2 separate regions of the Homo sapiens genome follow, and region 1 is linked to region 2. Evidence: fine-mapped expression QTL. Tissue or cell type: whole blood. Region 2 holds a variant in brackets; the other region holds the start of a gene. All regions are shown on one strand. Distances are from middle to middle.

Region 1 (14,767 bases), 31 kb before region 2:
CCCCAGGAAGAAGCTGGATGTGGCAGAGAGGAACAGCCAGGCCCGGGCAGCCGGGCACGGAGCAGAAAAGCCGGCAGTGTGCTCCCTGCCACCCAGCACATGACGCCCACCACCTGGCGCCAGCCCTTACCAATCACACCAGAGGCGGCAAACCCAACTGGCTCCTGGCTCCAGGAACCCTGTGGCACCCGTCTCCTCGAAGCACGGCTGCGGCCCCGCCAGGCTGGCTTCCCCACCAGCTGCTAGAGTGACCAGCCAGGGCCAAGAGCCTCGGCACAAGGAAGGCCATGGCCACGTCTGCAACAGGGACTCCTCCTCCTCCCCAGATGCTCTCTCAACCTCACATATTCTAGGACAGGCTGTGGGCCAATGGCACTATGCCCAGAGAAGGTGGTGGAGCCGCCACACTCCAGGTCATGGGTCACCTGGGAGCCAGGGCTTCTCTGCGGACACGAGACCTTGAGGAAAACACCCACCTGACATTCTCCTGGCATTCCAGGAGACACAGCCAGCCAGGGAGCCAGCCCCTCAGCACACAGGGATGCACGGGGCTTCCCCAAGAGGGCTGCAGCTTCAGTAGCCTTAATTCCAAAGGCCACCGGGGGAGGCAGATTCCAGCACTCCATCCCTCCATCTGGGCCACTACCCAGGGCAACCTGAGCAAGCGCTGGGCCCGGGCTCCTGTGGAGGAAGGGGTCTTCCGCGCCTTGCCCTCCCAACACCTGCAGGGCCCAGCCCACGCAGTGCCCCCAGAAGGTCTGAGATTATGTTCTCGGCAAACACCGGGAAGCCGTTCCACTCCCCTCCCCTTCATCTTCCATGAAATTCCCCGAGGACACAGCTCCCAAGGGAATGGAGCCACCAGAAAAGAGGTCAAAGTCTGCGTTACGGATTCTTACGGGGAAGAAAATCAAAACTGCACTTTTTATTCTCGCATTTTTAATCACCAAGGCCAAGGACAAGCGTCCTCCTTTGCCAAGGCAAACACCACTCAGAACTGCAGTTAAGGCGATGCAATGTCCAAACCAAACCAAACAGCTGAGCCGCATCGCGGGTGACACTAAGCAGGCCACAGCACAGCCGTTCCAAGAGGCACTGCCAGGGCTCTGCAAGCCGCCAACCCAGGCACAGGAGCGGCCCCGGGAAGGGATGCCAGAGGCAGCACCGTCCCAGGAGAGGACAGAGCTCAGCACTGCCTGGACCGGCTGGACCGGCCCAGGAGTGCACACCGGTGGCCTCAGCGGTCTCCTGACTATGTCTCCATGTGGGCTGAGTTTCTGCCTGGCTGACATTGCCAAAAGCTGCCCAACCAGTACCGGCACTACCAAGGCACCTTGAGCTCCCCAGTGACAAAGCACAAAAAGGTCTCAAAGACTCAGCAGTCAGGCTCCCGGAGTGGCAGCAGGAGCCACCTACCTACAAAACCAACCCCGCCTGTGTGCAGCAGCAGCAGCGCAAGCCTGTCACCAGGGCAAAGCCTTTCCAGAGTGGATCGACCCTTCAGACACCTGCGGCCCACCGCGTCCTGCCGTGCTAAATCAAATCATCAACCGCCACATCTTCACTTGGGAAAATCACCAATTAACCCACCCGTGGAAGACAAAACGCAGAACCTGTGTGTTTCACGTGCTCCAGACCAGCTGGTCTGCGTCCACAGGGGCTCAAAGTCCCCAAACACTCAGTCCTAAGAGTTTTCCTGCCAGCAGATTTCACTTAGACCTGCAGATAAATTACAGCTTCACCTAGGTGAAGGCCTACTGCCCGGTTAGGAGAGTTTTATTAAGGACGATCACGGGGTCGGTCCCCCAGAGCAAAACCACTCCATGTACTCACCCCCTGCCAACTCTCACCACGAAAGTTCCTGCTTTCTGGTTTCAGCGCAGAAGGAGAAAAAATAGGAAAAAGGTTCCGCTGGTACTTCTCTTCCACCCTCTGCAATCACAAACAAGTCGTAATGGAGCTAATGACTAATAATTTAATAAACCTCCCTCCCTTGACAACATGTGCTTCCACAGAGCAACAAGGCCAGAACCGTATGCCACAGACTCTGTGAAACCAAACCTAACAACCCCAGGGCCTGTGCCTTTCCCAAGCCGACTCCTCAGGTCACCCTGAATCCTGTTTCCCAGTGGCTCCGACGTGGCTTTAGGACTCATCTAGTCGACCGCACACCCGCCTTCAGAAACCTTCCAGACTGACGCGGCCCCAACTTCACAAGCTTTATTGAAAGCTGTATTCAAGTGCAATCGGCCCCCTGCACTCCAGCTGGAACCAGAGGGGCCACCCCTGAAGCCTCCATCTGGCTCTCCCAAGCCTGAGAGCTAAGAGGGCTTCCCAGGCCCCTGGCCAGGCACGCCTTGGCCGCCTACCACAATCAGAAACAGTTACTCTGCCGGGCAGGGTGCAAGCCGGTTAGGAAACATGAACCAGCGACTGCCGGGTAAATACCCACTCCACTCATCGCCCAGCCTGTCACTGAACCTGCAGACAGTTTTGAAACAAAGCACATCTGTAAGAGATCGCCCAGGACCCAGGGACACCCAGAGCAGGGGTTTCTCCTCTGAGAAAATGCTCCCCGGCAGCTGCCGGGCTCAGGCGTGGGGGTCTGGACCGAGAACGGATGCTGAAGAAAGAGAAAACCAAGGGCCTGTTTGTCGGTATCCCAGCCACAAAAACGACTGGGGAGGGGGCGGCAGGGGAGGCTTCCAGCGGTGCTCTGCGGCCCTTGGATGTGAACCTGTCATTTCGCAGACGAGAACGTGGATGCCACTCTTAACACATCTGAAGCAAAGGCAGGCACGTCAGCCTCCTACACAATTAGTCTTCTCTCTCCGCGGTTACATAAGATGATAGATTATCCGTCCACCCATCCAGCCTGCCCGCGCTCCGACCTCCCACCTTAGGCCCCAGCATGGGCGCCGGGCAGGAGTTGTGGGAAGGGAAAGCCTGTTGAGAATGAAGTGCCCGAGGCTCGCGCAACCGCGCCTGGAGGAGCCCCACGGTGCCACCGCGCCGACCGCGGCCTTCAGACAGCCCCCATGCCGTCCTGGCCGCCGCAACCCCTGGGCCCGCCGCCCCCGCCGCCCCGGCCCTGCCCGGGTGTGCTACGACCCCGACCGGTCCGAGGGCTTCCGGGGCCCGGCGCGCGGCTCCGTTCCCGCCGACGCCAAGGCGAGCGCGCGGGGGCCGAGCAGGGCCGTCGGAGCGGGGAGTGCTCCCCGGGCCTGGGGCTGGGGACTGACCGGGCCGCGGCGCGCATGGGATGGGGGGGCCCGGGCGGGGGTGGCCACCTGTGAGCGGCCGGCGCCGGGCTCACCACCCCAGCAGCCCGGGTCCCGGGTGGCCGCGCCGGGAAGACCCCCAAAGTCCCAGCCTCCTGGCCCGGCGCGCGGCCCCGGGGCCGCCCTGGTCGGGCTCGGGCGCGCGGGCGGCGCGCGACCCAGGCGCACACGGAGCGGGCTCAGCTCGGCGCCGGGGGGCGCTCACCTTATAGACATTTTCCGTGAGCCGGTGCATCTCCTCTGAGCGAGACAGAGACATGGTCCTGGGTCCCGGCTGCACCACAGACCGGAGCGGGGGACGCAAGCGGCGGCAGCAGCGGCGGTAACGGCAGCAGGACGGAGACGAAAGCGGACCCGAACCACAGAGCCCGGCGTCCGGCGGCGGCCACCTTTATAGCCGCCTCAGGCCCCGCCCCGCGGCAGTCCCCGCCCCTGCGTCCCGCCCCCGTTGCGCCCGCATCACCGCCCCCGACCACCCGCCCCCGCCCGGCGCTGCCGCTGCTAGGCAACCGCCAGGCCCCGCCCCCGCACCGCCCTTTCCATTGGTGGGTTCCGGAGAAGGGGGAGGGGGGCGGGATCGGAGGTGGGGCCTAGTGGCCGACTCCAGGCAGCGATTGGTCTGCGGCGGCGTCGATCCTGGGGGAGGAGAGGGGAGGCGCGGCGCGGGCTGGGGCCCTGGGAGCAGCCTGAGGGGGCCCGGGCAACAGCCGGGCTGGGGGCGGGGAGGCGGGGGCGGGGTGGCGCAGGAAGAAGGAGCAGAAGGTGCGGGGAGGAGAGCGGGGGGCGCCGGCGGCAGCGCGCGTGGAGGCGGCACTTCGCGAAGTGGCACTTCGGGGCGGGCGGCCCGCCGGGTCGCGGCCTGGCGCTGCGGGGCGGGGAGCGGCTCGGACGCAGGACGCCGCGGGCCGGGCTTACAGGTGGGAGAGGCCCCGACCCCGCCGCTTCGCAGGTAAGCCCGCCGGGCGGGCGGCGACCCCCCGGCCGGCCCCTCGGGGCAGAGAGGAGAACCCTGGGGGAGGGGGTGCTGCAGGAGGACCCTGGAGAGAGCTCGGCCCTGGAGTGGGGGACGACTTGGAGAAGGAGGATTTCGGGGGAGCATCGTGAGGAGAGGACTTGGAGGGAGGATCCTGCAGAAGGTGAACTCTGGGGAGGACCCCAGACAGGCAGACAGCGCTTGGGGGCTTGGGGCCGGGATTCTGGAGAGGGGAGGACCCTGGGAGAGGAGGGTTGGGGAAGAGGATCTTGGAGGAGGGCCCTGGGAAGGAGGATCTGGAGAGGGGACAGGGGAGTGTCCTGCTGGAAGGCCTGGGGACAGGGCGACCCTTAGGGACGGGGAGGACCCTCCTGCCGTCAGAAGATTCTCGTTGGAGGCAGTTTACTGAGAGAGAGAGGTCTCGGGAAGGAAGGGTCGAGGGCAGTAGGAAACGAGGGGCCCGGAGGACTCTCATGCGGTGGAAAGCCCTAGGGGGTGGGGGAACCTTGTAGGAGGAATGGAGGAGTCAGAGCTGCCTCCAATTTTTAGGAAGGGTCCTGCTTAAGGGTCCTCCCAAGGGGAGATTCTGCCGGGGAAGCTGGCCGAGTTGGCACACAGGTCTCCCGGTACAATTCCCGTGGAGAAATATTTACATAAATTAGGCTAACATAGAGGAATTATTTGTTTTACGTTGTGAAACACCAGATCTGAGCGTTTCCGTTTAATGAAACCTCTCAGTCTCCCAGCCTCCCATCCCTGCAAAATCATTCATTCATTCATTCCTTCAACGAGTCAGGCCCCTGGGGGAGACGCAGTTGTGCTGGCTGGCCGGCAGATCCCCAGACTGGCACGGGCTCAGGCCGATGGAAAGACCAGGGAAGTAAGATTCAGGAAGCATTGCCTCCCTCCCACCACAGCCCCGCGCCTCCTCTCCTCCGGCTGAATTTCCTTCCAGCTACTGGCCCTGGCTGCTTCCTTTTTCTTTATTGTCTCCAGTGTTTGGGGGTAGATCCCTGTGTATTTATTTTCTAGGATTCTTTTGGTGGTAAATGACAGAAAGCTCGCTCAAACTGGCCCTAACAAATGAGGGCATTTACCTGAAGGTAGGAGCATCTCCACTGACCCTGACCCCCTTCTTCTAGGCCAGCTTCCTGCTGTGTTCCCTGCACCCACCGATCTCACACGCAGCCCTAGGACAGACGTCCACTGGCCTGAGTTGGGTCTGGGGCCAACACGGAGCAGGTGGGGGTAGAGCAGCTCTGCTCGCCTGGAGGAAAGTTGAATGGCTGGAACCAAGATGACAGATGGAGGCTGGCAGGCAAACACGGGAGGCCTCCTCACTCCAAGAGGGGAGTCAGCCTGGGGACAGTTCTTCTCCAGGCCCTGCTGCTCCCATCAGCTGCAACACAGGAGAGGTAGGCTTCTCCGGAAAAGCTCCCACGGTCCTGGATCCCGCTCCACCTTCTAGAAGCTCCCAGCGTTACTTCCTGAGCTGGCCTGCACATCGTTGCGCTACTCCCGTCCAAGGGGGGACATATTCGGTGACCGACTCAGAACGCAGCCTGCTTCCCGGGTGGCCAGTGGCTCAGCAGTCTCGGTGCCTGAGCCTGCTCCCTCCGCCCGGCGGCTGGGCAGGTGGCTGAATGCGGGCTGGAGGCCTTCCCTGAGAAGACGGTTATCCATGCTGTACATGGAAGTGACCAGCTCGGCACCTGAGGAGACACACCGCGGCCGATGACAGGCGCAGAGCAGGACGTGGTGAGGTCCTCATACCTAGGAATGCAGAACAAGGGCAAGAAACTCGGTGCCCGCCTGGCATCTGCCCTGCACCAGTGGCCTCCAGGAAGTTCTCCACCAAGGATGTTCCCCAGGCACTCTGTGCTCGCCTTCACCAGCGTCCTGTGAGGTCTTTCACACTGATGGGGAAGCCTTTCTAAAGGGTATTAGGGGGCTTGGGGGCTGGGGGTGCTGAGTACCAAGGGTCCCAGGAAGAGACAGGCCAGGCTTATGGGCTGGGCATCCAGAGATCGCCCTGACGCCAGCTCCAGGTGGAGTTAGGAGGGCACTCTTGTCCCGACGCATTTACAGACCACTCCCTCTTCTTGTTCCCCTCGACTCTGAGAGTGTGGTGGGGTAGCTGTGGAACCTGACTGCTTGCCTGAAGGTTGGGCAGCGTGGCTAGAAATTGCGGCCCAGACCTGGGATCTCACCCACACCTCTATGAGACGTCCTGAAGGAAACCATCGACTGAGCGGAGAGGCTTCGCCTTGCCCGCCTCCTCCCAGGAAGGAAGAGCGGAAGAGGCGTCGCCAGCCACCGAGACTGCCAGCCACCACCCCCTCCCAGACTCTCTGTCCCCACCCCAGACCAGGGTCACCTTCTTCCTGCACTGGGGGTGGGGTGCGGTAGGTTTCGCAATCCAGACTGTGGGGTGGGGGTGGGAGCAGGTGTGTGTAAATGAGCAGCTCGTCAGGAGTCACTGAGAAGGAGGCAGATGGAGCTGGTACCCAGCAGGTCTCCTCTCATAAGCGTCAACCCTCGCCTGGGCGGGCTGGGGGATCCTCAGCACCCCAGCTCTGAGCCAGGGGTCTGCAACCCGGGCACCAGCGATGGGCCCTCATGCACACAGGGCGCCGAGCGGGGCCGGAGGCAAGAGTGACTTCAGACAGGAACCCGACGCCACAGCCGGTGACGCGGACCCTGGGTCAGCCAGCACGATGGGCCGCTGGGGAGAGGAGGGCTGGAGGCAGAGAGTGTAAGTGTGCAGCCTTCATCAGCTTATTTTTAGTCGCGTTATGTAAGTGGCTTCATCTCAACGTCACATGGGGGGGGGTCTCAGATTTAATTACAGGATGACAGCCTTTGCTTTTCAAGCAAGCTGTTCTCCTGGCAAGCCAGGCGAAGGATTGGGGAGTTTTGCTAAACAGAAGGAGCCCTTTCTGAGGTGACCACCCGTCAAAACTTGAACCCGCTTCCACCTCCGTCTCCCTCTTCCCGACCAGCCTCACCCAGCCTCGGCTGAATGTGGCCTGAGAGTAGCCACTTGTCCGCAATCACAGGGACGTTTTATGCCTGTCAAGGGAGCTTCCTCTCTCCTCTTCCTCCCCCTCCCACCTTCTGCCTGGCAGCTTTGCCTTCTCTCCAAGAGAAGGGTCCACCCAATCAGAACTCCTCTTCCTTTTCATTCCTGGATTAAAGCACTTGTAATCAGTAACCAGAAAGTTCCAGAGCGGGAGAGACCGGAAGGCACTGGAGTGCTATCGGACGGGTGTCTGGGGCAGAGCCAGGAGGGCGAGCCTCTTCTCTCCCCGCCTGCCCTTGCTCACTTCCCCCTCCATGCCAGGTGCTGTGGGAGCAGCTGGGCCTGGCCGGGGTCGGCGGGTGAAGCTATCCGCATGGTGTCTGGAGCACCGTTTCTTTGCTTCCTGGATGGGCTGGATGGGCTCCCGTGTTCTTCACCAATGGCAGCGTTACCAGCACCAATGGCAGCGTTACCAGCAAGAAGGCAAAGGCAGGAGCACATCGAGGGTGGGAGCCAGGGCTGTGGGGTCAGGAGTCCCGCTCCTTGCCGCGGGAAGCCTGGCTCAGCCACCTCCAGCACACTTCGGCTTTGTCCAGCATAAAAGGCAGAGCGACGTTTTCACTGCAGGCTGTTTCCCACCAGGGCAAGTGGGACAGGGCGAGTGCTGACGTCTGCAGGCATGGTGTGCATTTAGGGGTGGGCGGCACCGAGGGGGCATCATTTGGCATAGGCGGGCCCGGGGGCCACTGGGCTAGATGACTGGCTGGTTGCTGGGGGCAGGTGTCACAGCCTCTCTGAGCACCCTCTAAGTGGAGGACAGAACATTGTTGGGAGGAGTCCAGGCATAAAGTGACATAAACAGCGCAGAGAATGGGACCAGCGCACCTGAGAGGTGATCATTAGCCTCAGCAACTGGATGGGACATTCCGAAGAGCTCCCAGCCAACACAGATGGTCACTCCAGAGGCTGACATTTAAAAGGAAGGGGCCCGGCCGGGCACAGTGGCTCACGCCTGTAATCACAACACTTTGGGAGGCTGAGGCGGGCAGATCAACTGGGGTCAGGAGTTCAAAACCAGCCTGGCCAACATGGTGAAACCGCATCTCTGCTGAAAATACAAAAAATTAGCCAGGCATGGTGGTGGGCACCTGTAATCCCAGCTACTCAGGAGGCTGAGGTAGGAGGATCGCTTGAACCCAGGAAGTAGAGGTTGCAGTGAGCCGAGATTGTGCCATTGCACTCCAGCCTGGGCGACAAGCGAAACTTCGTCTCAAAATAAATAAAAGTAAGGGGCACAGGGAGGGGGCCCCAGCTCGTGCCCCTTCTGTGTGGGCTGCACATGGTGACTTCCTTCCAGAGAGCACAGAGTGGGAGGTAGGCAAGGCGTCTCCACAGTGGAGAGCCCGACCCACTGTCTCAGCCCAGAGGTCAAGGCTGGCACCATCACCGAGAGGTCACACGGGCAGATGTGACAGGGCGCTTCACCACTGGGCTCTTCCTCCCAGACCCATAACCCTTGTCTTAGTATTAGAAAAACACTGGCAGACCGGGCGCAGTGGCTTACACCTGTAATCGCAGCATTTTGGGAGGCCGAGGTGGGAAGATTGTTCAAGAGCAGTCTGGGCAACATGGTGAGACCCCATCTCTACAAAAAAAATTTTTTTTTTAATTAGCCAGGCGTGATGGCACATGCCTGTGGTCCTAGCCACTAGAGGCTGAGGTGGGAGGATCACTGGAGCCCAGGAGGTCAAGGCTGCAGTGAGCTGTGATCACACCACTGCACTCCAGCCTTGGCGACAAACCAAGACCCTGTCTCGAAAAGAAAAGAAAAGAAACATTAGGCAAATCCCAACAGGGGGACACTCTACAGAAAAACCGACCAGCCCTCCTGAAAACTTCCCAAGTCATCAAAACCAAGGAAAGTGGGCTGGGCGCGGTGGCTCACACCTTAATCCCAGCACTTTGGAAGGCTGAGGCGGGCAGATCACAAGGTCAGGAGTTTGAGACCAGCCTAGCCAACATGGTGAAATCTCATCTCTAAAAATACAAAAATTAGCCGGGCGTGGTGGCAGGCGCCTGTAGTCCCAGCTACTCGGGAGGCTGAGGCAGGAGAATTGCTTGAACCCAGGAGGCGGGGGTTGCAGTGAGCTGAGATGATGCCACTGCATTCTGGCCTGGGTGACAGAATGAGACTCTGTCTCAAAATAAAAAAAACCAAAAACCAAAAAACAACCAAGCAAAGTCTGAGAAACTGTCACAGCCTAGAGGAACCTGGAGACAGCTGATCCCTAAATGTCACGTGGGATCCTGGGTGGGGTCCTGGGAGAGAAAGAAGACATTGGAGGGAAACTGAGGAAATATGAATAAAGTATGGGCTTTAGTTAATAATAATGTAGCAGCATTGATTCATTGATCATCATAAACACATGTACTGATGCAAGATGTCACCAAAGGGAAAACTGGGCTGGGGGGATGGGGGGGTGGCGGTATCTTTGTAACAATTGCATGAATGAAAAATGTGCTAGAGTTAAGGTTGTCATGGGAATGGGCAGTGATCTTGCACAGGCCTCCAGTTTTACCTGCAGGAGTCCGAAGGCGTCACCTGTGCCTCACCCTGGAATCTCGTCCTGGCCCCCAGGTCCCCACTCTGTCCACCTTGGGGTCAGTGGATGGAGCTGTTGCCCCTGTGGTCTGCTGCTGCTGATCACAGAGAGCCCCAGGGGGCCAGCACCCTGTGGAGTGGCCCCTTATCCCGAGGACAGGCACGTGGGCCCGCCCCCCACCTCGCCCCCTCCCCCGTCTGTGGCTGCGGCTGGACTGCCCGCAGTGGAGCTGGGGCTGTGAGGCGCGAGGGTCCTGCTGACGGCTCAGCCCTTCTGCCACCCCAGACGTGGTTCTCACCTGGCCTCCTTGGCAGATGGTGCCTTGGGTTTGCTGCCCACAACCCAGCGTGGCTCATGGCTGTCCTGCAGCCATAGTGTTGGCCAGACTTCTGGCCATAGCCAGGGAGATGCATTGCTGCCCATCCGGGCATCTGATGTCCCCTCTCTCCTCTCGCAGAGAGTACGTGGCCCGTGATGGGGAGGAAGTTCTGGAGGACAGGATGAGGCCACTGTCTCTAAGGCAGGGAGACCCTGCCTGCTCTGAGCAACACATGGGCAGAGGAGTGTGGGCATGGCCTCTCGGGCCCTTCCTGACCCTGTGTTGCCGTGGTCCAGCCTCAGCCCTCAAAGTGAGGCGGCCTACAGACAGAGCTTCCCTACAGACCAGGCCAGAAAGGCCAGAGGGGCTTCCTTCTGAGGGTGGTGGGGACAGACGACATGTGGCCTCCCTCCAGAGCCTGCCCTGGCGGGGGTGGGCGGGGAGAGGTTCCCCAGCAACAAGCCCCCTTATATAATCCAGCTCACATCGCGTGGCGTGACTCCAGGTGCCTGTGGGAGGCAGTGCGGGGGTGAGCACCGGGGCGCAAGTGAGTCTCAGAGTTTCGCTCCGTGCTCCTCCCCCCCTTGCTATATGTCAGCGTCATCCGGAGCCTGCCAGCCCGGTCACCCACTTGCTTATTAGAATACATTAGCTGACAATGTGGATTTAAATAACTCGGGCAGGTGACAGCCTGAAGCGCACCCAGCGTAGCTGGGCTCTCCTGCACTGGCCCAGGTGAGGCTGGGGTCTGGGGCCGGAGGAAGGACACATGTGGCGCCGGGACGAACTGGCCGAGCTGGCCGCTTCAGCCACACGTCTGGAGCTGGGCAGGGTGGAGGGGGAGGAGGGACACGGGTGCCCACAACGCAGCACCACCCCGGGCAGGAGTGGGAGCCCGCCCCAGTCCCAGGCCCACTCGCCATCTTCTGAACCCAGCATGGGGTGAGAGTGGCCAGTGACTGGGTGAGCAGGAAGACGGACCTGTGTGAGGACACTGAGCACTGGCCCCTCCTGGCACTGGGGGCCGTACTCGGCTCAACCTCCCTGAGCAAAGACGAAGAAAGACGAACTTTGCTTAACGCTCAGTATAATTAGTCTTCATTTACCGCCTGAAACGTTGTCTTTGTTTTCTTATCACTCTGCTTCTTAAATGACTTAAACTGCCTTGAAAGTGATCTGAAAGGTATTTCTGGATGGGAGCGGAGGGAATCTGTTCTTCAGAATCTGAAATTGGAGGACACCTGGAAAACAAGACCTCAGTGTGTTCCCGCAGGTCCCTGCAGACAGGAGACAGCAGAGCTGTACCTGCGGGTGCCGCTTCGCATGCCGTCAGGGAGGACCCAGACGTCTCCATGCTGCTGGGCGCCGCGCAGATGGCTTCCCTGCCCGGGGCTGGCTGCTTCTAATTTCAGCTGCTGGAGGCTCCGCGCTCTCACTCTTGCTCGCGCTCTCTCTCTCTCTCTTTTATTCCATGTTTATTTAAAGCCAGATTTTGAAATGTTGTCTTCAGCCCTAAAATCTCACTTTATCTTCTTGCAGCAGATCCTATAAAACCCCACTTAGGTGCCTAGAGGGTGGGGGACTTCGAGGACAGAGTTTCCCTGGCCCGCTGCCTGACACTGTCTCCGTAAACATTCCGATGACTGGTCAGTGTTTTCCCAGTGGAGCAGCCCAGTGTCACGTCCACCCAGACGGAATACAGACGAGCCGGGTGGACGTCGTGAGTCCAGATACACGAGAGAGAGCATGGCCTCCCCAGTGACATGCAGGAAGCACGCCTGCCCCGGTGCTCGGAGTTGAACTTAGGCAGGGGAGTCTGAGGCTGCCCTGCCGTCTCCTGTCTGGGGTCGTGATGCAGTGGGGCCTGTCATGAGTGGTCCAGACGTGTACCCCCGGAGGTGGAACAGTGACAGCCTCAGGTGCCCTGGTGCCTCCTCCTTCCCGGCTCTTCCTGGCACTCTGCTTCCTTCTCCTAACCTGAGAGCCACACGCTATTTCTTCTTGTCCATCTAGAAACCAAGGACATCTGGAAGGGGTCTTCCACCTTAGACCCTAACAGGGGAAGTGCAACGCAGCTTTCTGGCCGCGCTGACCCGACAGGGCTGCTCCGATGGGGAAGCGTGGCCACTCGCACAGATGTTCATTTGCACAGCATCAGACCACACAGCAGCTGGGGCCCTTTGTCCCACCGGCCATGGGAGCCCACAGTCAGCCCGTGTGCATGGTAGGTGCTCCAGAAATATGAGGTCCCTTTCTCTTTGATGAGACGTAACTACCCTCATGTCCCTCTATGGCTCGCCTCAGAATGTGCTAGAAGAGCTTTGATGAAAGGGGGATGTCTTGATGAACTGCACAGGGTGAAGGCAAAACTGGCCGAGGGGCCAGGCTGGATGTGTAGCGGGGAGGACACCTGCAGGAATGGAGTTTACCTAAATAGGTGCTCCTGGAGCCAGTAGTGCTAAGGAAGGAGCTCCCTGGCTTATCGTGCGCAGAGCCGCAGCGCCCCAGCCCAGCCACGGAGCCACACAGCTGCCTCTGGCTAGGGGCTAGGAGGCGGGCAGGGTGGGACGCAGCCGGGGGCAGTTGCCCCAGGGCTGGCTAGAGATGGCGGCCGTGGCCAAGCCAGTCTCCAGCCGACTTAACGCCAGAGCTACCGGGGCCCAGAGGAGGCGTGGCTGTGTTTCCAGTGAGAGCCAAGCAGTTTTCCAAAGAGCGCCGCAAGCTACTGCCAGGGCCTTTATGTTCTAAAGATGTGCGGAGCGTGTCTCAGTGGCTTCGCCGGCATACTTGGCCAGAAAGTAACATGATTTCGAGAAAACATGATTTGAGTGTTAAGCTCGAGAATATCATTTCCCCCAGCAAGTTCTTTTTCTTCTCACAAAGTTGGAAGACACAGAAATCTTTGTAGAGGTTCATGGAAAACTTTAGCTGTTTCCTAGCTGCCCAGATGAAAAGAATATTCCATCCACTGGGGGAAAACAATTACTCTAAACAGATTCGGGTGGCATTTTACCCCTCGTCCAACTGGCTGCACGTGACCTTTGCCGGCGTGGCTCCAATGCCCAGAGACGAGGCTGGTGTGAAGAGCTGGCTGCTGATCCCTGGAATCTGCCGCTAATTCTCACTCAGATTTTGAGATTTTCTCTGCGGCTGCAGGAGCCAACAGAGTCCTTTGTGCGGCCTCAGGACTCGGCTTTCAGAGGCCCTGGAGCCAGTGGTGTTGGATTCAGCCGTAATTCTTCATTCTTTGGCTCAAGGGAAAACCTTGATTCTGCACAGGATTGCAAAAGCCGAGGCACTCCAGCTAGGACACGGCGTCATTGGAGTGCCCTGGTGCGTTCCAAGGAAAGTTGAGTTGGTGATTTCCAAGTGGTTTTGGGCAGGGCAGGGTCTCCAAAAGGCTGGAGGTGCTGGAGGAGAGGCTGGGTTAGCTTGGCTGGAAGGGGCCCTGCCCTTGTTGCGTCAAGCCTGGGAGACTGGACTTGGGACTCAGGTGCATTTGGAGTTTTTTTGTTGTGTTTTTTGTTTTGTTTTGTTTTGAGACGGGGTCTTGCTCTGTCGCCCAGGCTGGAGTGCAGTGGCACGATCTTGGCTCACTGCAAACTCTGTCTCCCGGGTTCAAGCGATTCTCCTGCCTCAGCCTCCTGAGTAGCTGGGACTACAGGCGCCTGCCACCATGCCTGGCTAATTTTTTTGTATTTTTAGTAGAGACGGGGTTTCACCATGTGAGCCAGGATGGTCTTGATCTCCTGACCTCGTGATCCGCCCGCCTCGGCCTCCCAGAGTGCTGGGATTACAGGCATGAGCCACTGCACCCGGCCGGAGTTGTTTGTTTTGAGACAGGCTCTCTCTCTGTCGCTCAGGCTAGAGGACAGTGGTTAGATCTTGGATCACTGTAGCCTTGAACTCTTGGGTTCAAGGGATCTTCCCACCTCAGTCTCCTGAGTAGTTGGGACTACAGATGCGCGCCACCACGCCTGGCTAGGTTTTGTGTTTTTGTAGAGATGGGGTCTCGCTATGTTGCCCAGGCTGGTCTCAAACTCCTGGACTTAAGTGATCTGCCTTCCTTGGCCTCCCATCATGCTGGGATTACAGGCATGAGCCACGGTGTTGGCTGCATTTGGGTTTTATATATTTTTATTTATTTATTTATTTTGAGAGACAGTCTTGCTCTGTCGCCCACGCTAGAATGCAGTGGCACGATCTTGGCTCACTGCAACCTTTGCCTCCCAGGTTCAAGCGATTCCCCTGCCTCGGCCTCCCAAGTAGCTGGGATTACAGGTGCCCGCCACCACACACAGCTAATTTTTGTATTTTTAGTAGAGGCGGCGTTTCACCATGTTGGCCAGGCTGGTCTTGAACTCCTGACCCCAGGCGATCTGCCCAACTCGGCCTCCCAAAGTGCTGGGATTACAGGCGTGAGCCACCACGCCCAGCCGCATTTGGATTTTATAATAAGCTTTGCTGTGCAGGAGAAGTGGTCCCTGGCATCCCAGCCCCCTGGCCTGACGAGGTTGGAGGGCTCCTTGGGCCCCCACCACTCTGCTGCAGCCAGGGTGGGTGCAGGGC
Region 2 (14,422 bases):
TGCTCTGTCTCCCAGGCTGGAGTGCAGTGGCACGATCATGGCTTACTGCAGCCTCCGTTTTCTGGGCTGAAATGATCCTCCCACCTCAACCTCCCAAGTAGCTAGGACTATAGGCATGCACCACCATGCCTCCCGGGTTCACGCCATTCTTCTGCCTCAGCCTCCCGAGTAGCTGGGACTACAGGTGCCCGCCACCACGCCCGGCTAATTTTTGTATTTTTAGTAGAGACGGGGTTTCACCTTGTTAGCCAGGATGGTCTCGATCTCCTGACCTCGTGATCCTCCCGCCTCGGCCTCCCAAAGTGCTGGGATTACAGGTGTTAGCCACCGCGCCCAGCCTAAGATACCCACTTCTAATCAACATTGTACTGAAGCTTTAACCAGGCACTTAGAGAAGGAAATGAAATTAAAGGCATCCAGGTTGGAAATTAAGAGGTAAACTATCTCTCTTTACAAGTGACCTCATCTTGTATATAAAAAGTCCTAAGGATTTCACTTAAAAAAACCCTAATAAACAAGTTCAGCAACATTGCAGGAGACAAGCTCAATATACAAAATCAGCTGTATTTCTGTATATTTAAGTGAATAATCTGAAATTGAAATTAAGAAGATTTCATTTACAATAGCACCAAAAATAAAACAGTAATAGGCTGAACAAAACAAGTATAAAATTTATACTCTGAAAACTACAAAACTTGGTTGAAAGAAAGTAAAGAAGACCAAAATAAATGGAAAGGCACCCTCAATCCACGGATCTGGACTTAATGTAGCGGAGACGGCGGCACTCTCCAAACACATCCACAGATTCTACGCAACTCCTATCAACATCTCACTTGGCTCCTCCGCAGAAACTGAAAAGCTTATCCTAAAAATTCACATGGAAATTTGAGGGTCCCAGAATAGCCAAAACAATCTTGAAAAAGAAGAACAAAGTTGGAGAACTCACACTTCCCAATTTCAAAGCTTACTACAAGGCTGCCATGAGGACGTAAGAATAGACACACAGAGCAATGGGACAGAACTGAGGGCTGGAAAGAAGCTCCTGGCTACAGGCAGCGGGTTTCCACACGGTGCCAAAACAATTACACGGAGAAAGGACTGTCTTTTTAACAAATGACGCTGGGACAGAAAAATACCCACATATAAAAGGAAGAAGTCAAGCCGGGCGCGGTGGCTCACGGCTGCAATCCCAGCACTTTGGGAGGCTGAGCCAGGCAGATCACCTGAGGTCAGGAGTTCAAGACCAGCCTCGCCAACAGAGTGAGACCCTGTCTCAAAAACATATTTATATAAATATAAATAAACTATAAAACTGTTAAGAAATCATAGACACAAATCTTCATGATCTTGGATTAAGCAGGGGTTCCTTAGCTATGACACCAAAAGCACAAGGAACAACAACAAAAATAAATTAGATTTCATCAAAATTAAAAACTTTTGTGCTTCAAGGGACACCATCAAAAAGGTTAACAAGACATCCCAAAGAATGGGTGAAAATATTTGCAAATCATGTGTCTAATAAGGGTCTAGTATCCCGAATAAAGTATTACAACTCAATAAAAAGACAACGAACCCAATTAAAAATAGGCAAATTATCTGAATAGACATTTCTCTAAGATATACAAATGGTCAGTAACACCCACGAAAAAATGCTCAACACCATTAGACACCAGAGAAATGCAGGTCAAAGCCACAATGACGTACCACCTCATGCCTGCTAGAGTGGCTGTAATCAAAAAGAATATAAGAGTTGGTGAGGCTGTAGAGAGACCAGAACCATCGGCCACTGTGCAAAAGAGTGTGGTCGTTCATCCTATGGGTGAACATCCAGTTACCACACAACCCAGCAATTCCACTCCCAGGTGCAGACCCAAGAGCAGACGCTGTCCACACAGAAACCTGTATAGGAATGTGTTTGTTTTTAAAATTTGTTTATTTTTGTTTTATTTCTTTATATGAGACGGAGTCTTGCTCTGTTGCCAGGCTGGAGTGCAGTGGCGCAATCTCGGCTCACTGCAACCTCTGCCTCATGGGTTCAAGCGATTCTCCTGCCTCAGCCTCCAGAGTAGCTGGGACTACAGGTGTACACCACCACGCCTGGCTGATTTTTGTTTTTTTTTGAGTCTTTTTTTTTTTTTTTTTTTGAGACAGAGTCTTGCTCTGTCACCCAGGCTGCAAGTGCAATGGCATGATCTCGGCTCACTGCAACCTCTGCCTCCCAGGTTCAAGCGATTCTCCTGCCTCAGCCTCCCGAGTAGCTGGGACTACAGGCATGCGCCACCACGCCTGGCTAATTTTGTATTTTTAGTAGAAACGGGGTTTCTCCATGCTGGTCAGGCTGGTCTCAAACTCCTGATCTCAGGTAATCCACCCGCCTCGGCCTCCCAAAGTGCTAGGATTACAGACGTGAGCCACCTCAGCCGACCTTGTTATTTATTGTTTTTTGTTTGTTTTTTTTTTTTTTTTGGAGACAGAGTCTCGCACTGTCACCAGGGCTGCAGTCTGGAGTGCAGTGGCACGATCTCGGCTCACTGCAACCTCTGCCTCCGCCTCCCGGATTCAAGCCATTCTCTTGGCTCAGCCTCCCTAGTAGCTGGGATTACAGGCGCCCGCCACCATGCCCAGCTAATTTTTGTATTTTTAGTAGAGACGGGGTTTCACCATGTTGGCCAGGCTGGCCTCGAAATCCTGACCTCGTGATTCGCCTGCCTCGGCCTCCCAAAGTGTTGGGATTACGGGCGTGAGCCACCGCGCCCAGCCCCGTTTTTTTTTTTAAAAGACAGAGTCTTGCTCTGTCGCCCAGGATGGAGTCCAGTGGCATGATCAACTCTGCAGCCTCAAACTCCTGAGCTCGAGTGATCCTCCTGCCTCAGCCTCCTGAGCAGCTGGGATTATAGGCGCCCGCAACCACGCCAGGCTCACACACACACACACACACACACACACACACACACACACAATCAACAAACAACAAAAACAAAACAACCCCCTGGTCCATACAATAGCACAGCTGAGCCTGGAAAGGCTGTTAGGTGAACGTCAGAACAGACCCCAAGGTATAGATTCCACCTACAGGGCAGGACAGGGGACTTTACAGGCAGTGCGTGGCTGCTGAGGGCGGGACGAGGACCGGATGGGGACCAGGAGGGTGACAGCTGAAGGGTACAGGGTTTCTTTTGAAGAGATGAAAATGTTCTGAAATTGGCTGTGGTGACGGCGGCGGGTTTGTCAATACACGCAGGACCCCTGAGGTGTACTTTTAAAATGGGTGAGTTGTATGGCAGGCGAGTAATATCTCAACAGAACTGTTGCCACAGAAGAAAAACCAAAACCCAAGCCCACGCTTCAACCGCGGGGCCGCTGCGGGAAAGGACAGCTCAGCGCGCTCCCCGCGCCCCATCCTGGGGCGGCTGCCACAGCTCCTGCCTCCCGTGAGCTTCCCTTGCGGGATCATCGTTGCCGCGCACCGGGTGCTCACTCCTGGGTCCGCCCGGGGTTCGCCCGGGGGCCCATTGCAGGCAGCCAGGGGCTGACCCGGGTCGCTCCGGAGCGCTGGGGCCAGGGGTGCGGATTCCCGGGGAGCGCGCCGGGTGGTCCCTGGTGATCCCGGGAAAGGCAGCCTCGCGCCCCGCGCAGCCGGGTCCAGCCGCAGCCAGGAAGGGCGGGGGGGCGGGGGTCGAGGGGCGGAGGGGGCAGCGGTCCCGGCCCCCGGAGCCGGTGGGGTTGCCATGACGACGCCCGTGCGCCGCCGCCTGCTTCCCGCGCCGCCGCCCCGGGAAGGGCTGGGCTGGGCTGGGCTGGGCTGGGCAGGGTTGGGCGGGGTCCGCGGGGCGCCCTTCCTTCCAGAAGCGTCTTTACCCGAGGTTGGGGGGGTGCGAGCCCCACTCCCGGGTGGGGAGCGGAGGCCAGGCGGGGATGTCTCGGGTCCCACGGTCCCTCCCGCAGGGCCTGGGGCAGCGCCGCTGAAACAACGAGAACGCCCACCCCCACCAACCCCGCCAGAGCCCCCGCAGAGCGCCTGGGGCCTCGGGAGGCGGCTGAGAAAGGCGCAGCTCAGGGTCACCGGAGAGAGGAAACTCCGCTCTCACAGCCCCGTGGCCATGTCCCTAGCAGCTCCGCTCGCAGCCAGCGAAAAGCAGCCAGATGTGCATCGACGAACAGCAAGGGCGGCACCGGGAGTATTACCCAGCAGGAAAAAGGGACAAGCGTTTGGCACGTGACAACTTCACAAGGACAAAGACTTTGTGCGGGGAGAAAGGCGCCAGAAAGGTGACCCATGGTCGGCTTCTGTTTTTGTGACATTCCCGGAAAAACACTATGGGTTGGAGGACAGATCAGTGGTCACCAGGGGCTGGTGGGGTTCGGGGGGAGGGGCAACCCTAAAGGGCTGGCGGGAGGGAGTTTCAGGGGTGATGGAAGGTTATGGTGTTGGTTACACGAGTCCACATGTGCTGAAATTACAGCAGTGTACGACGTAAAATCGAACTTCTGTTTTCCTGTGTGATCTTTTTTTTTTCAGATGGAGTCTTGTATTGTTGCCCAGGTTGGAGTGCAGTGGCGCGATCTCGGCTCACTGCAACCTCCGCTTCCTGGGTTCAAGCGATTCTCCTGCCTCAGCTTCCCGAGTAGCTGGGATTACAGACATGCGCCACCACGCCCGGCTAATTTTGTACTTTTAGTAGAGACGGGGTTTCTCCATGTTGGTCAGGCTGGTCTCAAACTCCTGACCTCAGGTGATTTGCCCGCCTCGGCCTCCCAAAGTACTGGGATTCCCAAAGTGCTGGGATTACAGGCGTGAACCACTGCACCCAGCCGTCCTGTATGATCATTTAAAAAAATCTATTAGCCTGGGCAACATAGTGAGACCCCATCTCTACAAAAAGTAACAAAAATTAGCTGGATTTGGTGGCACACACCTGTAGTCCCAGCTACTCAGGAGGCTGAGGTGGGAGGATCGCTTGAGCCCGAGTTCCAGGCTGCAGTGAGCCATAATCACACCACTGCACTCCAGCCTGGGCAAGTGAGACCCTGTCTTAAAAAAACAAACGAAAACCCAAACTATCAGTGCTGCTCCCAACATCTGTCTGCTGGCGGCCTGGAGTGGCTGCTGGATGCTGTCGAGTTGGATGGACCCTGTCTCTGCAGCTCAGCAAGTACTGGAGCTGCACTGTTCTCTCCAGGATGATGTAAAACAGGTCATGGTTTCACTTGGGGTTTAATTACCATGGTCATTCTGTTCAGTGTGGTTATTGCTCCTTCCACACTTTCTGCCATGGTTTGAATGTTTGTCCCCTCCAAAACCTGTTGAAATTTCATTGCCTTTTAACAGTATCGAGTGGGACCTTCAGAGGGTGGTTAGGCCATGAAGGCTGCGCCCTAACGGCTGGGATTGGTTATAAAAGGGTGGGGTGGCTCCCCTCCTGCCTTCCACCATGTGATGACGCAGCTGGACGGCCCTCGCCAGATGCTGGCACCTGTCCAGTACCGTGAGCCAGTTGATTGTTCATTATAAATTACCCAGTCTCAAGCACTCTGTGACAGCAGCACAAAACGGACAGAGTTCCTAAAGTTGAGTCCCTCAGAGACCATCAAGAGTCAATAGGTGCAGACAGTTTACAGGCTGGGGACAGAAGTGGACTCAGCTGGAAGAGACCCCCAAGGCCAAACCCCCAATATTGCATGTATGAAGAAACCAGGACCCAAAGGATTCTGCGGCCAAGTCAGACACCAGTTGGGACCTGAGTTTGGAGCAAACCATCCTCCCTCCCCCGAGTACCTGCTCTGCGCAGGAGCTGGCAGAGCGCAGGCACACAGGGGTCAGGGGCCCCATCCCGTCCAGGATGGACCCGCCATTCTGTCCCACGCATTTCTTTTTTGAAAGAGTCTCGCTCTGTTGCCAGGCTGGAGTGCAGTGGCATGATCTCTGCTCACTGTAACCTCCGCCTCCCAGGTTCAAGCGATTCTCCTGCCTCAGCCTCCCGAGTAGCTGGGACTACAGGTGCGTTCCACCATGCCCAGCTAATTTTTGTATTTTTAGTAGAGACGGGGTTTCGTCAAGTTGGCCAGGATGGTCTCAATCTCTTGACATCATGATCCGCCCGCCTCGGCCTCCCAAAGTGCTGGGATTACAGGCGTGAGCCACCGCGCCCATTCCATCCCACACATTTCTGACTGCCACACTGCCTGCCCCGTGGCAAGTGTGCCTTCCAGCGAAGTGTCTGCAGCCTCTGAAAATGAGGGCACCACTTCCACACTATGCCCCATTCCCTCCCTGGGAAGTCCTCTGTGGCTGGCAGGCTCCAACACCCTTCAAAGCTGCTGATTATGTATGGCTCTTCCTTTATGCCCCTCCTCCACTCTGAGCCACCCTTTGTGTGGCCCCCTACTCTGTGTCCCTGCCCTCTGCAGCCTCTCCTCCTCCAAGTCCTCCCGCCGGCCCCCAGGCATCTCTGGCAGGACACCAGCTCCGCCCTGAGGTTCCACACCTAATTTTGACTTGTGATTGTCATGCTCCTGTGTCCCCAACCTAGATTAGGAGATCAGGTTGGTCAGGCTCCGGCCAGCACTGGGCTCTGTACCTTGCTGGCAGGAGGGGCTGCCACCAGCCCGACATAACCAGGAGCCGGCCAGCCAGGACACACCAATGCCAGAGTTGGGAATCAGCTCAAGGTCACTCTGGGTTGTCCGGGCAGACTCTTGCGAGGTCCAGGGAGGAACACTGGTACACAGAACACGGCTGAGTAGTAGTCAGGCTCTAACTTCTTGGATAGTCAGAGGGAACGTGGACCCCACCCCACTCCTGGCTGTGCTGTAGCAGGGATGGATGGTTATTGGCGTTCCCTGGATGGCCTCCTGGGCCCTGACCAGGAACTTGGCACAAGGGGGAGGGCACTGTGGACAGCTGCTCCGGTTGGGGCTGAGAGCAAAGTCCTGCCACAAAATGCCGCCAGAACACCCGGCCTCTCTTGGCAAAAGCCCCTGGGTTCTAATGGAGGCAGAGGGAAAGGAGGGACCTGCCCCACAGGCAGGGTGTGTAAAGGCTGTGACTGAGGCCTGGGACTGACAGTAGCCAGGGCCCCTCCAGCCACACCTGCAGCTTCCCAACGCAGGCTCCTGGCACCCTGCGTGCAGTTTGGGACCCAGAGCCGGTGCTCCACAGGCCTGGGACGCACTGCTGCAGGGAGCAGGTCATGGGGCTGGAGCCTCATCACGAGGTGCCCTCCAGGCTGCCTGGCAGTCCTGGGGACAGACAGGGGGAGCGCCAGCCAACTAGTTTTCTGCAGAATCCCTGCAAGGGTGGTTGGAAGACCCCCTCAACCCCAGCTGACACGTGCACCGCAGGAGAGCTGCCGCCACGGGGAGAAACAAGACTTTCCCCCAAACCCAGGTCTTCAGCTTCTTCAGTCCTGAGACCCGGCAGTGCAGGGCCAGCACCCCCATGCCCACCGGTGCGGGGTGTGGAGCCACCCCTTGGGGGTCACCTGCCCATCGTGTTCCCTGCACATCAAGATTCCCGCCTGGGCACCAGGACCCCAAACCCACCACCCTCTGGGCCCAGGATTACACACAGCCACGCGAGGGAGACAGCCTGCCAGCCTGCTCAGAGCAGCACCCTGGCCCCCATGGAGGGCAGCTGCCCAGAGGTGGCCGTCAGGGCCCAGAGCTTCCATCTCACGTGTGCAGAGCCCAGGCCTGGCCGGACTGGGCAGGAGCCCTCCAGTGAGCGTCCCCATGCTGGTCAAGGGGCTGGGCTTTGGTCAGGGTCACCGTGGGGGAGGGGCCGCACACAACCCACCCACGCTCCCACAGAGGGAGCCACGCCTAGGTGCCCACTGCGCCCAAGTCCACGAGGCAGTGGGCGTGCAGGGCCAACTTTAATACGGGCCGGCCTGTCTGGGGGTCGAGGTGGCCGCTCCCTTTGTCCTTGTGGCTTTCCACGGGCAGGGGCGGTCCCAGCGAGATCGTCTCATAACCAAACCAGCCCTGTGCACGAGAAGTCACGCCATGCCCCACAGCCTCCAGTCCTGGCTGCTGGTGGCTCGGGGACCCGCAGGGCAGGAGGGTCCCGGGTCTCGCAGTTCCATGAGCCCCAGCCGCGGGGACCCCCATGGACAAACTTCCGGGGCTGCACCTGCCGGAGCAGCGTCTCCCAAGCATCGGAGGTCCTTTCTCAGCAGGGCTGAGCCCTAGTGGACAGAGCCGTGAGTGGCAAGGCGGGAGTCAGGGCTCTCGGAGTCGTCAATTCAGCAAGAAAGCCCCTGGCCCGCCACCTTCAAACTGGAGGTGGGTGTCTAGGGTGCGGAGGCAGAGGCACAGAGAGGTTCAGCACATGCTGGTCTCCTGGGGATCCCCCCACCAGCAGGGAAGCTGAGGTGCGCCGGGAAGCCAGGCCAAGGGAGGGACCCCTTAACGGAAGCCTGCACCAGCTAATGGGAGCAGCGAGGAGCAAGAGGAAGCGCGGGGACCCCAAGGTCTGGAGGTGTCTTCCTCACAGACGAGCGCGAGCCACGCGGGGCTGGGACTGCAGGGGAACAGCACCAGAGGCGTTGGGCCTGGGCCTCGGCCACCGGGGGAGCCCACAACCGGCAGAAGCTGGGCTCGGTCGAGAGTTAATCCGGACTGAGAGCAGGCCAGTGGCGCCTGAGTGCGTTCAGGCTCAAGGTCTCCAGGAGACGCTCTGGAGTCCTCCTGCAATGCGCCTGCGTGGCTGCAGCTCTGCTCAGCACCGTGCGCACTGGGCTCCAGGGAACCCGGTCAGGGGCTGGCCGTGACCCAAACTCTCTGTGGGCCACAGTCCCTGGGGCATCCCCGTGAGTCCCACAAGACGAGGCCACGTTACGAAGCTGCCACCAGCTCCGCCTGCCTGGGCCTGGCCTTGACAGGGACGTTTTCTGTGGAGGAAACAGAGATGTTTATGACACGCCAAAGACCCACAGGCAGAGACCTCCAGAGAGGGACGAGGCCACAGGGGTGGCAAGGGCCAGTTCCGGGGACTTCGCACTAGGGAAGGGCACGCCCAGCTCTGGGGGAGGCAAGTGACAAACAGGAAGCCAATGGGGCTGACAGACAGGGCCAGGGACACGGGACAGTGGGCCAGGAAAGCACAGCCCCTCCCAGCGGGACTCAGAGAGGAGAAGAGCCCCAAAGATGGGTAAAGGAACAGAACAAACGTGGATGGACGGTTCTAAAGTCAGCTTCCCAGTGGGCAGGTTGGAGAGCCTGTGCTGAATGGTGCCACGGGGAGAGCCATCCCTGGCTGAGGGCTAATCCTGGGCTACACCCTGGGAATGAGCTGGTGCTGCTAAAGAAGCCTTTCCCCAGTTCTGATTTCTGAATGTGTCTCTTTGAATGGGGTATGGCTCTCTTATGAGGTTGCCCAGTTACCGAACCCCTGGGAAACCCAAGCCCAACCCCAAGGCCAGGCACGCACGCCCCCAAGCCAAACAGCCAGGCAGCAGGGCTTGCCCACGGCCCAGGAAGGCCTGGGAGCATTCTGTCTTGTTCCCTTCTAGAATCCACTTTTCTCCTGCGAATTCCAACCATTCAAAAGAATCAAACATGGAAATACCTGGGATCTTCTCAGGAAGGGGCTCGGAGGGAACCTCTGGCAGCTCTATTTGTTCCTGCAAGAAGCAAAGGGTAAGGCTATGAGCAGGTGACAGGTCTGCCCCGGGCTGCCTGGGCCTCCCCGAGAGGACACGGATCCTGTCCGTCAGCCGCTCTCAGCCGGAGTTAAAGCGGACAGGAACGTGCTGCTCAGAAGACCCAAGTCTGCAACCGCCCCGGCTTCTGGTGCCACCAGAATCCCCTAGGTGGTGACGCAGCCGCTACCATGGAGGCTCCTCCCAACAGACCCTGGGGCGCTGAGGGGCTGTAAGGAGGCGACGTCCTGGGTGTGCCCCAGAGACCCTGGCTCTCAGGGACCGAGGGGTGGGTGACACAGACACCCAGGTCACGCTGGTGTCCACCACTGCGGGGTGGGCTGCGGTACAACGCTGTCCCAGCGAGCTTGGCTGCCTAAGCCAGCACGGGTGCTTCTGCCTCTCAGCTGGCCTTCCCTGGAGGCCCCGGAGGACTCGGACCCTCAGGAGAAAGTAACTGGACAAGCAAGTGGGTGCAGGCACCATGGGCCGCACAGCACCAGGGCGCCGGGGCAGCTGGCAGCAGGGCTGGGGCAGAGGCCGGCTCTGGGGGCACCATGAGAATTTGGCGGACTGAGGCAGGGGCCCACAGAGAGGACAACCCCTGTGTCGGGGAGTGAATACAGACTCAGAGCCTGGATGTGAGCCTGGGGCCAGGACGCGGCCCCCGCAGCGAGGGCCTATGTGGGACGTGAGTCAGCAGCCACGGCTGGGGAAAGCCAGCACCACATCCGTGACAGCCGGGGACAGAAAGGGGCCGAGGCGCCAGGAAGGCCCAGCACCCCCGCTCTGTCCAGGGCACGGGGCCAGCCTGCCTGCACCAGACCGTTGGGTGAGCAACCCTGAAAACAGAGTCACCTCAGGTAGGAAAACCAGTCACAAACCGCAGACTATTTACTTAAAGGACACCACATACGAGATCACCATGGGCAGGGCCTCCTGGGGGTCTGAGCTCTGGGGGTCCCGCTGCCTGAGTGACTGTGCTCAGTCCCGGGGGGGCCGTTACCTGAGTGATTGCGCTCAGCTCCTCCAGGATGGCGTCTTCATCCTCCTGAGTGAAGCTTCCTGCCAGGAGCTCGTCTATTTGCTGCAAAAGGACAGGCGGTGGTGAGAGCAGCGAGGAGGTGGCCCCTCAGGGAGGAAGGAGATGGCCTGTGGCTGGGTCTCGTCCCCTTGAGAGAAGGCGGCCGCTCTAGGATGTGGGACAGTTTGGCCCTCGAGGGTGGCCTTGTGGGTTCTCACAGTTGGGGGCAGGCCGGTCAGGGTGCCACCTACCCGCTGGTACTCCACGGCCTCCTGCGTCTCGTCCAGGATCCTCTCCACCTCTTCAATGGACATCACCTGTGGACGAGGGTGATGGGTGTTGACCCCTGTCGCGAGGCCAATGGTAGACCCCCGACAGAGGCCTCCTGGGCTCTCAGGGCCATGGCCTCACCCCTCTGTTTATTTTTATTTATTTTTAAAGACAAGGTCTGGCTGTGTTGCCCAGGCTGGGCTCAAGCGATCCGTCCAAGTAGCTGGGACTACAGGTGCATGCCACCACACCCAGCTCCTGTCCCTGTTTAAATGAGGCCAGGACATGTGTGTCCCAGGCATGGGCCTGTCCTGAGGCCACAGGGGCCGTTTGATGAGTCTTTTCAGAGGCCAC[G/A]ACTGCACTGCCCTGGCGCCCGATGCCCCCTCTCACCCTGAGTCAGCTCTCACAGCCGCCAGTAAAAACAAGCAACAGGTAGAACATTCTGGGCAGGTGACTTGATTTCTTTTGAGTGGCAAAAGGTCAAAGGGCCACTTGTGCTTGACCGGCACACACCACCAGTACTCACCAAACACTTGGAAAAGTAGCACAGCCAGACCTCCCGCCAGGTGAGTCCCTGGCTCTCCAACTAGCCCCACCTACTGGCCCCCATGTCAGGAGTGTGATGGGGTTGGTGGGGGAACGTGGTATGGCCACGCTGGGCTTCACATCCATGCCCGGCCTGAGATGAGGCCGGTATTCACCTCCTCCAGGAAGCCTTCTTTTTTTTTTTTCCTGAGACGGAGTTTTGCTCTTATCATCCAGGCTGGAGTGCAGTGGCGCAATCTCATCTCACTGCAACCTCTGCCTCCCGGTTCAAGAGATTCTCCTGCCTCAGCCTCTTGAGTAGCTGGGTTTACAGGTGCCTGCCACCACGCCTGGCTCATTTTTGTATTATTAGTAGAGACAGGGTTTCACCATGTTGGCCAGGCTGGTCTCGAACTCCTGACCTCAGGTGATCTGCCTGCCTTGGCCTCCAAAAGTGATTACAGGTGTGAGCCACCACACCCGCCACCTCCAGGAAGCCTTCTGTGATTAGTTTGCCAGCCCCCTCCCCACCCTCAGACTTCCCTTCTATGTCACTTCGGCGCCTGGGGACCCAGTTCCCACAGTTCCCAGCCTGTGCTGCACCCGGTCACTGCATCCCTGCCTGCCTGGCAGCACCCAACACATCTCCCCTGCCAGCCTCTTGCCCTGTGTCTGACACGAACACCGTGGGACAAGCCCCCCGCCCTATCCCCAGCTCCAGCCCAATGGGCTCCCCACACCTCCATGCCCCTGGCCCTGCAGAGACTCACCTGGTGCATCTTGTTCAGACACTCATTTCCAAACTGCAGCCCCTCCATCACTTTCATTTCGATCTGGGTGAACTCAATACTCTGAACCTGAAAAGGAAACCAGAGCAGACGCAGGTGCTGAGGATCCGGGGTGCCCTCCTCCCGGCCCTGGGGCAGGGTTCAGGATGACACCCTTGCTGGGCGGGTGCTGCTGGGCGTGAGGGTGACTCCTGACACCTGCTCCTCCCTGTCCTCTCCCACTGCCAGGTGGGGATGCGCAGGACTGAGCAGGTGCCAGGGACACACTCAGGGGACCGCTGGTTGCTTGTTAGTAGCTCTGGTTACCAAAGAGCAGAACCACGCCGCTCGGGTCCCTAACACCAGGGACACTCAGTCCCCATGCAGACCCCTGACCTACCCACACCACCCAGGGGTGGCCCAACCTTCCCCACCTCAGTCCTGCGAGAGCCAACCTGCCCCCCAGCCTCTTAAGACCATTAGCTTCCTGGCAGACTCCCCGGGATTCCAGGCCCGCCCCTCTTCAGGTCAGCTTCAGCCCGAGGCATCTGAGAGGAGCTTTCAGCTCTCGGGAGAAATTTCTGATGTCCACGCAGCCGGGCGGAGCTGCCTCCAGCTGCACCTGCACTCCAGGGCGAAGCACCCGGCCGCCTACCATGGCCTCCAGGCTGCTGATCTGGTTCTCCGTCCTGTCCAGGAGCTGCTCCTGGTATCGCTTCTTCTTGAGCAGCAGCTTGGCCCGTCTGCAGAGGGAAGCCCGAGAGTGACCCGCTGTGGCCCTGCCTGGGCCCCCCACCCCAGCCGACAGGGTGCCCACGCTGCCCGGGCCCCCCACCCCAGCCGACAGGGTGCCCACGCTGCCCGGGCCCCCCACCCCAGCCGACAGGGTGCCCACGCTGCCCGGGCCCCCCACCCCAGCCGACAGGGTGCCCACGCTGCCCGGGCCCCCCACCCCAGCCGACAGGGTGCCCACGCTGCCCGGGCCCCCCACCCCAGCCGACAGGGTGCCCACGCTGCCCGGGCCCCCCACCCCAGCCGACAGGGTGCCCACGCTGCCCGGGCCCCACTCACTCCTTCCTGCCGTCCCGCAGCAGCTGCCGGGCCAGGGCGCGCTCGCGCTCCAGCTGCTGGGCGATCCTCTTCTGGTACTGCCTCAGCTTGTCCCGCTGCTGCTTCAGTTGCTGCCAAGAGAGAGAGGGCCTGGCGTCACCGAGCCCACACTGGGAGCCCTGGCCACGCTACTGAGCGCCAGGCATGGAGGCCGGGCGGCCCTCCGTGAGTGTCCTTCATGGGGCAGGGTTGCCTTCCAGGGGACAGGTGGTGCTGTCTGGACACGTCTGGGGGTGGAAGCCAGGGACTCAGCTCCACATCCTGCCACACAAGAGGCGGCCCCACCAGAGGGTCACCCGGACTCCACAGCCCATCACAGGGATGGGGAAGACCACCGTGGCATTGCTGTGGGTCCACCCTCGAGGCTGCCTGCCAGCGGTACAAGCACTCTAGGCTCAGGTCAGGGAGCAGCTGCCAGGACCTCAAAGGTTTGGACTCGGCTGGGCGCAGTGGCTCACGCCTGTAATCCCAGCACTTTGGGAGGCCGAGGCGGGCGGAGCACGAGGTCAGGAGATCGAGACCATCCTGGCTAACATGGTGAAACCCCGTCTCTACTAAAAATACATAAAAATATTAGCCGGGTGTGGTGGCGGTGCCTGTAGTCCCAGCTACCTGGGAGGCTGAGGCAGGAGAACAGCGTGAACCCGGGAGGCAGAGCTTGCAGTGAGCCGAGAGTATGCCACTGTGTTCCAGCCTGGGTGACAGAGTGAGACTCCATCTCAAAAAAAAAAAGTTCCGACTCAAGAACATGCAGGTGGCGAGTACCCAAGTGCCACCAGCCACACGGCCAGGACAGGGCTCAGACATCCCCCCGGCTTCTCTCCTTGCGCTTCAGCCGCATGAGATGCCTGTGGCTTCCCTGCCCCTTTGCCAACCATCCGGCTGCAGGGACACCCACTCGGCCCCGCTGACCGCCTCTCATCTGTGTGCCGTCCCAGAGAGGGCACTCGGCCACTGAGGAACTTCAGCCAGTCCTGCTCTATCAGGTCCTTAAGTTTTCCAAACGTCATCACTTCAGACAATGCTGAGCCCGTGCAGGCACAGGGATTATGGCCTTAAGGCAGGAGGCTGAGGAGAATTAGCTC

Evidence for each region. PIP is the estimated chance that this variant, and not a neighbour inherited with it, causes the effect.
Region 1: it holds the start of BAIAP2-DT, and the variant in region 2 is fine-mapped to the expression of BAIAP2-DT in whole blood (INTERVAL, PIP above 0.99).

The regions. Positions count from the first base shown.
Region 1 is chr17:81,024,028-81,038,794 of GRCh38, reverse strand. It overlaps BAIAP2-DT (BAIAP2 divergent transcript), which reads left to right and starts at 4,076. Exons shown (of 2, transcript NR_026857.1): 1 at 4,076-4,230; 2 at 5,397-9,662. It overlaps BAIAP2 (BAR/IMD domain containing adaptor protein 2), which reads right to left and starts at 3,644. Exons shown (of 14, transcript NM_001144888.2): 1 at 3,487-3,644. The coding sequence starts at 3,540. RefSeq lists enhancers at 1,229-1,781, 2,832-3,827, 7,063-7,670, 7,671-8,279 and a silencer at 3,699-4,008.
Region 2 is chr17:80,993,567-81,007,988 of GRCh38, reverse strand. It overlaps CHMP6 (charged multivesicular body protein 6), which reads right to left. Exons shown (of 8, transcript NM_024591.5): 2 at 13,299-13,408; 3 at 12,883-12,970; 4 at 12,231-12,317; 5 at 10,917-10,982; 6 at 10,648-10,728; 7 at 9,569-9,623; 8 at 7,856-8,891. The coding sequence ends at 8,836. LOC124904077 (translation initiation factor IF-2-like) reads right to left here and starts at 5,873. Exons shown (of 1, transcript XM_047437254.1): 1 at 1-5,873. The coding sequence starts at 3,730. The coding sequence ends at 3,260. The variant G/A (reference allele first, on the strand shown) is at 11,290.